Regions from separate parts of the Homo sapiens genome. Here region 1 is linked to region 2. Evidence: fine-mapped expression QTL. A gene starts in region 2. The other region holds a variant in brackets. All regions are shown on one strand. Distances are between the middles of the regions.

Region 1 (4,385 bases), 340 kb after region 2:
TTAGCTCTACCCTTACTATTTCAGTTAGAGCTGCCACTCCGCACACTCAGGGACCCCTCACACGGGCTTATTTCTCCACCTTTTAACATACTGTGTCTTCTACCTATTTATTCTCTCTGTCTCTACCCGCAGGACATAAGCTTCACCAGGGCAGAAATTTTTGTCTCTTTTGTCTACCGTTGCGTCCAAGGTCCAGGCACATAGCAGACACTAAACAAATACTTGGTGAATAAATGAATGAATGGACAAATTACAGAACACATTTCTCCTATAAGCAGTCTTATCTGTGGATGTTATTGTTCTAGGCCAGAAGAGTCTATTCATTACACGGTGTATCTGAAAGAACGCACGAAGAAGGTTGGTAAATGGAGATGTGCAGATTCTGTTGCTCTTTTACTTACTAAAGTTTGACAGTCTCCTTGCTTGTTTAATATAGCTATAGAACATTAAGATACTGATTTGCTACCATTGTCAGTACTTTGTGTGAAGCTTTTCCTGTATTAACTAGAGATTCAAAGCAGGGAAGATGACTCATAAGAGAAATGTGGTTATGAACAATATAAGAGGTTGCAGAAAATAAAAAGATACAGGAAAGGAACCTGAAGAAGAGGAAGCCTCACCCCGCACATTTATAAAATAGATGGGTCAACTTGAAGGGAGCAAATAAAATATGTCAGCTTGGTATTGATTAAATAGGCTTTGACAAGCTCCTCGGAAGTGTATATAATGTGATTTCTATGAATGAGGAGGCCAAGAACCAAACTATGGAGGATAAAAATGCCTCTCTAAAATTATTGCTTAGAAAGCAGATTTCTTAGTTGTACTCCTATATTAATTAGTATATTATTACATTATTAATTATTATCATTTTGCTGAAACAATGTAGTAGGTGGCATATACTATATGCTTAAGATTTATTGCATCAATAAATGGATAAAGATAGAAAAAAACCCAGAAGGTTCAGACAAACATAAGGAAGACACATTTACAAACCACTCATCATTCCACCACGCAGAAATATCCACTGTTCTTTTTAAGTGAAGCCCTATTTTTAAGCCTCAAATTGTTATAAGGGAAACCACCATCTGTGGAGCTGAAGCCATCATTTGCAGAACTCCAGCACGGCACATGTGCTGGCGCTGTGTTCCTGTATTTCAGGGTCTTCTGCACCATGCTTCTCCACCTGTGGTCCCCAGCTGCTTGCACTAGAGTCACCTGCAGTATTGTACTGTTTATGTCAAATATGGATGCTCAAGCCCCGTCATGCCTACACAGATTTTCTGGGGTGAGCTCTGGGCATAAACAAGCAGCTTGTTGCCCTAATGCACAGCACCGCCTTCACCCTGGGTCTAGACACACGGCTCCCAAGTCTGCCAGGCTGTGCACCCAGGCTCACCTGCGGAGCTTGCTAAAGCCCTGGAATGTACCTCCACCAGGTGTCGTTCATTTTAATGGTGGTAAAACCTGCACCCTCCATTATCAAACATCTTTCCAGCTGATCCTGGGTAGACAGGCTTGGAACCTTGCTACAGATCAGTGCATTCCTACCTGACTTTGAAACGCTCAAACTCTTTGTTCCAGTGACTGACTGGGCTTTCAGTTAACATGTAAAGCAAATAAAGTGTTATTGCTCTATTCAAAT[C/T]AGAGAATCTGGGCAGACTCAGACTCCCCAAATCTCCATACTAGTCCTGAGGGGCTCTGGGTGAAAGGCGGTCTTGATGGTGGCCTCACGTGGCTGGGCTGAACTGCAGCCTCTGAAGACAGCACCAAGTCATTTTCATGTATTTGACCTCCCACAGAGGATGTAACAGAGGGTCTGGGTGTGGTCAATATGCCATAAAAATTTGTGGAATGAATACAGCACAGGAGGAGGAAAGTGTGACATACTCGGATGTCTGCCAACCTCCAGGTAGGCTGTAAGTAAGAGGGGATATTTCCTCTCTCCCTTTTTTTTTTTTTTTTTTTTTTGAGACAGGATCTCCCTCTGTCACCCAGGCTGGAGTGCAGTGGCGCGATCTTGGCTCACTGAAACCTCTGCCTTTGGGTTCAAGCGATTCTCCTGCCTCAGCCTCCTGAGTAGCTGGGACTATAGGCGCGCACCACCACGCCTGGCTAATTTTTTGTATTTTAGTAGAGACGAGGTTTCACCATGTTGCCCAGGGTGGACTCGAACTCCTGAGCTCAGGCAACTGGCCCACCTCGGCCTCTCAAAGTGCTGGGATTACAGGCGTGAGCCACCGCGCCCGGCTGATTTTTCCTCTCTAATGTGGGAACCTGGTCGAGCTCTCGGAGGTAAAATTCACCAAGCGCAGGTCCCCCATGACTGGGTTCCCCTGGAGTTTTTCTCTCACTTGTCCAGGTGGCATCTCCAGAAATTCATGAGGGGCAGCTCAAGTCCGTGGCATTGGCCCCGCAGAGGTTCTGCTCCTGTCAGCTGAGGTTCTTGGAACCCGCTTGTCTGTGTCTCCAGATTTGGGGGCCGTGCTTTGCCTGGTGACTCAGTTCTCTGACGGATGAAGAAGAGTTGTTGATTTTCAGTTTGTTCATCCTTTTCCTTCCGTGTGGATGGGAGCTGGACTGGACCCTGGAGCCCGGAGCCGAGAAGTCAGGAAGATGATTCCGCAAGTGCTCAGGTGTGTCTGTCGCCTGCACCCATGGTCCCTCCCCGAGAAAGCAGACCCATGGCCCCTTCGAGTCCCTCCCTCCACACTGCCCACCCTGCAGCAGGGCCTTCCTCATTCCCCTTCACCAGTGCTCACCGCAGGTAACAGAGGGGCTGGGTGTGGTCATTGTGCTGGACCCTGGAGCATCTGGGCATGCTCATGCTGATCTGGGCATAAACCGCTGCAATGTCCCTGAGAGAAGCAAAATAATCCAATAGAGACAAAATATATGTTTTTTTAAAAAAAGAGGATCACCTGAAGGATGTTATCAGCAGCTTCTTAGCAGTGCTCATCTCGCCTGCAGAAGCAGCTCTGTGCGTTTTGATTAATTCATTACTGGCTCTGAGATAAGGCTGGGACAGTCTGTATAGTCTGCTTAGAGATTAGGAAAAAACATTTCTTTTGCTGCACACTCCTTCCTACTAATCTTCCTTCTGATCTACCGTGGGCAGGGTGCACGGGTGGGAAATGCATGCAGCCATTCCACCCTTGAAGACGAACTAATAGATAGAAATCCAGGCTTCTGAAGAAGGTGCCTCGGGGGCAACAACCCACCTTGCAGCAGGGTTCTTAGTGAATCCCACAACATACAACTGAATTGTGTAGCACAGATTTACAGGCACAATGAGGGTCAATGACAGGGAAGCATGTCGACACCAGCTTAAAAACAATCAGGGGTTTTTGCACAGCAGGACAACACCTGGCTGCTGGGGAGGCTCAGAGTTGGGGTGCTCAAGGGGGTATGGGGCCGCTCTAAATGAGCTCCCATCTTGGAGGCTGCTCGAGAAGCTAAGAACTTGCATACCTGACTAAGGGCTGTAAACCTCATTTTGGAGTGCAGAGTCCCAGGCTGTGGTCTTGGGACCCCTGGGAACATGCTGAGTTGTCATAAGGGCCCTTCTAGCAACTGTGGTCTGAGACTGACATGTCTCCAGGTGTGGTTTTGGGTCCACCAAGGTGCTCAGATGCTTTTGTGATGAATTAAATACAAATTCAGTAAAATGTTACTAAACAAAGTGCCTTTTTGTCCTTATGCCCTTTCCCAGTAAATATTCTGAGAACAATAATATCAAGTATGTGTTCGTGAGAAATTTTGAGATAAATGTGTTTCATGCTGGCAGAGTCAGGAGCCACAGCAAAAACAACGTGAAGACGCATTCCGCCAGCTCCTGGGTGGGGAGATGGTATGGGACCCGGGCTCTAGCCCACCTGGCTTGGCAGCTGGCCCCCAGCAGCCCGCTCAGCCATCATGCCCCGCTGGACACTGCCCCCCCATGGTCCTCAGTGTCTTCCCTTGGGACACTGGTGTCTTAGAGATGCTGGGGCACACATGGTGTTCACAGCCTCACATTTCAGGAATCAGAATGTATCTTAGTTACATGGCTTGTCATAGTTTAATTGGAAGTGTTTTTCCTCTCTTGGTTCCATGAACGCAGTGGTGTGTCTACAGTCGAGAGCATCTTCGTGTGAGTGGAGCACAGTTGATGCTGCTGGAGTCACTGGAGTGCAGGAGCTCAAAGGGTGGCCCAGTCTCAAAGGGCGCACCAGACCCTGTCCTAGGTCCAGGGACAAATGCTCACAGCTCCCTCAGCCACCCCCACATTGCTACGAGAGGAGGACTGCCTTGTCCCTGTTTTACAAAAGAGGAAACTGAGGCACAGGTGGGTGAGGATTGGCCTGCAGGAGAGCCAGACCTGCTCGCTGCACATCTGCACCGTGAGC
Region 2 (4,381 bases):
ATTTCGCCATTTTTGGCCTTGGTTATCTATTACCTTTCTCAGAGAAAAGGAAGTAAAATGAAAATGGTGTAAGGTGCGTTCACCTCAGGCCAAAATGCGCCTTCCAAGGTGCGCTGGGGCCGGGGTTTAGCGCAGCTTCGCGACCCGGGGGAAGGCTCCTTGGAGAGCCTCCTGGACTCCCTCGGGCTACGCCGAGGTACCGGGTTATTTCCCAACTGCAAGGACAATTAATTCACGGGCTGTTGATGAGATTCCTCCTGACAGGGCGGATTGTCGGGCTCCGCCAGGCTCTGGGACCGGGTCTCTGTCCGCCGCGCCCCAGGCCCGACCTCTCCGGGGGGTACCCCCCTTCGCGTCGCCGGAGCTGCCTCCAGCCTCGAGTCCGGGAAGACGGGAGAAGCGGCGGCGCTTTGGAGAATATTTACAGTTCCCAAACCCCCCACAGCCCGGGCTGGCCGAGTTCATCCACACGAAGGATAAATTCACTGCTGATCGCTTTATCTTTAATCGATAGAAGACCGGGGCCGCCGACAAGTCACGAATTTCCAATTCCAGGCCGTGGCCGGGATCGCCATTCACCGGCGGCGGCGGCGGCGGCGTCGCGCAGGGGCTGGAAGGACCCGGGCTCCAAGCGCGCAGGGCCGGGACCGGGGGCCGCGAGTTTCCGACGCGCATCGCAGACCCGCCGCGCACCCTCGCCCCCGCGTCCGCTCTCCACCTGCGAACCTACGCTGTCCGGGGGCTCCGCCTTCTCGCCGGCGCCCACCTCGCCCAGCTATCTCTCCTCCAGGCCCCTCCCCGGGTTCCCAGGTCCAGCCTGCTCCGAAGCCTCGGGCACCGCACACGCCGCGCGCTGAGGGAGGGCCGGGCGGGGAGAGGCGTCCAGTCCAGCCCAGCCCAGCCCAGCCCAGCCCAGCCCCACCTGGGCGCGCAGGCAGAGGAGCCCGCGTCCGCCGCCCCCCAGCCCTCCGCGCAGGGCTGTAATAATTACATCCTCATTATTTCTCCTGCAATCGTTAGCGAAGGAGCCGGAGACAGCAACAGCCGCTGCCGGGGGAGGCTTAGTTACAAAACCCTGCGCTGGGTAGCGCCTCGCTTAGCAACCACCCCTAAAAAAGACCCCGAGCTCCTCGCTCGCACTTGGAGAGCCGGGCGGCGGCCACCCCCTCGCTGCGCGCACCCTCCACTCCGCCTGGTCTCGGCAGCCGCTGCTGCCCGGCACAAGGGCCCCATCCTGGTCGCCCCCGCCCCCGCGAGCCCCCGTGCGCGCAGCCCAGCCCGGCACCCTTCATTCATTCCCAGTCCCCGTCGGCGTTTCCACCCGGGCTTGGGGGGAGGGGGATGCAGTCTGCTGCCCGCCGCCCCCACTCGCTCGCAGCTGCCCCACCGGAGCTAGGCGCGTAGCCCCTGGCGCGCCGGCACCCCCCAGGCTTTGCCCCCTCCACCCCGGGCAGGCAGAGCGGAGAATTTCACACCTCCGCGGCCCCGTGCGCTCCCGCACCCCCGGAGCCCAGGGTCCCGGCACCCCCGAGCGCGGCCAGGGATGCGCGGAGCCCGGCGAGGAGCGCAACGCGCGACCCCCGAGCACAGGCTGTCCCTGGGGTCCCCAGCGCTCCGGCCCCGGCGGGCGGCACGACCCCCGCTCGCCCCCGCCCCCAACCCTGACGCCCTCGGGGCGTCCCCGCGGGTCCGACACACCGCGCCCTCCCCGCCTCGACGGCTCTCGGAGCCCCGCGCCCGGCTCCCGGCAGCCCCCGGCGGCTCGCACCTTCCTCAGCGCGGACATCCTCGGACGCTCCGGGCTCAGCAGGTGCGGGGCGACATGGCGAAGCGGCCCCTCCTCAGACCGACGGCTCCCGGGGCTCGCGGGTTGGGGTCAGTACGTCCGTCCGCGGTCCGTCCGTCCGTTCGCCGCCGCAGGCGCCGCGCGCTCAGACCGCGCTCGAGCCCGGCGCACGGTCGGTCTTCACGGCCGGCGCCTGCGCACTCGGCGCCCAGGGAGGCACCGGCGCACTGGGGGGCGGCCGGCGCGCGGCTGCATCTGGGGAAGGGCCCGGCTTGGGGAGCGCGCGGGCAGCCCGGCTCCAACTGTTGCGCGGGGCGCGCGGGTCACCCGGGGACTGTGCCGGGCTCCCGGCGGGAAAGCAGCGGCCTCCACCGCGGCGCGCGCAGGCGACGCTCACCGCGCCCGAAAGTTAGCGGGGGACCCGGTCACACCCGTCGCCCCCGGGCAGGGTCAGCCTTTCTGGACCGCTGTTAGAGACGCGCCGGCGCGTTTGTGCGCGGGACTCGCGCTCGGGTTCGAGTCGGCTCGGCGCCCAGGGGGGCTCGCGGGGCAGAGGGGACGCGGGGCGAGGGAGGCGCGGGCGCTTGCGAGGGTCTCACTGCGAGGTGCGGCCGCCGCTTGGGTGCTGGAGGCAGAACCTCCCCCGGTTTCCACTGGCGGGCTACGCTGAGGAAGGTGTGCGGCGGCGGCTTCGCGGGGACCCACCGGGGGGCGCCCCGAGAACCTGGGTCCGGACGCAAGGAGCGCCCTCGGAGGGGGCCCGCCGCCTGGGTTTGCTGTGAGTGGCGTATGGACGACAGAGCCGAGGAAAAGGGAAAATCGATCCGGAGAAGTGGTGTTGACAACCACAGCAGCCGGGAAGATCAGCCACCCTGGCCACGTGTGGACGGACCCTCGCCAGGATCATGGGTTTTCCCTTCCGGGATCGGAACGCGGGAGCTAGACGCGCTGGTATGGGGATCCCTGGGCGGTCACCGACCCTGGGCAAGTCTCTCAGCCCCAGTTTAACATAAACGCAGAAATGGATTTCTGCTTTCCACCTGCATGGCTACGGCATTTAAATGAGGTAAAAGATGCGAAAACAAACCGCATAGAAAGACGGATGGGAGTTAGAATGAAATCAGGTCATCCAAAATATTTGGAATGGACAAACCAATCTTTTCCAGAAATTCCAAGATCTTTAAACAAAAAACAGGCTCTGTAAGAATTCCCCGTATAATTGATCACCAAAATATTCATCAGTTGCAGTTTATTTTCAAGGCAGAGTGCTAAACGACGAGGGGGTAGAAAGGTGAATGGGAGAAAGAAGTCCGGCCGCTGTCCATTTCTTCTAAATGTTTCCCGAATCTATCAGTGGTCTCCACTGTCAAAAAAAAAAAAAAAAAAGGTGCATTCAGCGCCCAAACCTCAACTAGGGAGAGATTCCAGGCCAATTTATTTTCATTTCACAATTTACTTTCCCTTTGCTTTCCTCCCCTGCATTTCGTCCCCATCCCTTCACGTTTTTTAAAAATATATATATATATTATTTCATGCAACCGCAACAAGAAAATCACACAAATGTACTGACGGCCTCTCCTGTGTTCTCAGCGTGTGAGCAGCACAGAAAACCACGGTTGCCGCCCCATGAAGCCTTCAGTCTAGAGAGGGATCCGCCCAGAAGTTACCCAAGGAACAGACAATTACAAGTTATAATTCTCTGAAGGAAACATATGGAGTGTTATTGGTGAATGTGAAAAGGGCAACAAATACAGTTTGTGACATCAGAAAAGAACTTTTTGAGGACGTCGTTATTAAATCTCCCCCTGGGTTCTCCCACAAGCAGGTTTTGAGGTGTGGATTTGGGTGCAGGTAGTTCATTTGGGAGATCGATCCCAGGAAACTAGAGAGAGGAAGTAGGGAGAGAGAGGCAGGGCAGGAGAGGACGTCCCAGAGGCTGCGGTGACGCTGGGCTGCTCCTGTGGCCACCGGGGCCCCGTCCTGCTGGGGTGCTCTAACAGGAGCAGCTTGGAGTGCACGTCAGCTTAGGAAGGCTGGACAGCTTTTCAGCTTCTAGGTCCCAGTGACTGAGGGCTGCTCCTCACCCACACACCCCACTCCCCAAGTTGAGCACCTCCCAAAGCTTCAAAGAAAGTCCAGAGGCCAACCAGCAGGGGAGTGCACGGGGACCTGAGAGCACATTGAGGGTGGCATCAGAGGTGGCCTCTGCCATGGCCCTGGGAACAGGATTTAGGGAGATAAGAGCAGGCCTGAAGACCTTGGGAGATAGAAGGACTTGATGCCTTTTTTTTTTTTTTTTTGACGGAGTCTCACTCTGTCACTAGGCTGGAGTGCAGTGGCACTATCTCAGGTCACTGAAACCTCTGACTCCCTGGTTCAAGCGATTCTCCTGCCTCAACCTCCCGAGTAGCTGGATTACAGGTGCACACCACCATGCCCTGCTATTATTATTATTATTATTATTATTATTATTATTATCATTATTATTATTATTATTTGTATTTGTATTTTTAGTAGAGGCGGGGTTTCACCATGTTGGCCAGGATGGTCTCGATCTCCTGACCTCGTGATCCACCCGCCTCGGCCTCGCAAAGT

Which allele goes with the higher level. Alleles are on the strand shown, and positions count from the first base shown. SD is a standard deviation of normalised expression in the study named.
With allele T in place of C in region 1, the expression in prefrontal cortex of the gene that starts at base 1,966 in region 2 is higher (moderate effect, 0.64 SD a copy in BrainSeq).

Evidence for each region. PIP is the estimated chance that this variant, and not a neighbour inherited with it, causes the effect. A credible set is the group of variants that fine-mapping cannot tell apart.
Region 1: its variant is the best candidate, but not a certain one, in a credible set for the expression of DLGAP2 in prefrontal cortex (BrainSeq, PIP 0.90).

Annotation. Positions count from the first base shown.
Region 1 is chr8:393,437-397,821 of GRCh38, reverse strand. No RefSeq gene overlaps it. Among named protein-coding and RNA genes, the nearest start is that of FBXO25, 11 kb to the left of the region's middle. The variant C/T (reference allele first, on the strand shown) is at 1,643.
Region 2 is chr8:735,213-739,593 of GRCh38, reverse strand. It overlaps DLGAP2 (DLG associated protein 2), which reads right to left and starts at 1,966. Exons shown (of 15, transcript NM_001346810.2): 1 at 1,769-1,966. The coding sequence starts at 1,786. It overlaps LOC124902044 (a long non-coding RNA gene), which reads left to right and starts at 2,564. Exons shown (of 2, transcript XR_007061156.1): 1 at 2,564-2,737; 2 at 3,377-3,560. It overlaps LOC401442 (a long non-coding RNA gene), which reads right to left and starts at 1,046. Exons shown (of 1, transcript NR_134292.1): 1 at 1-1,046.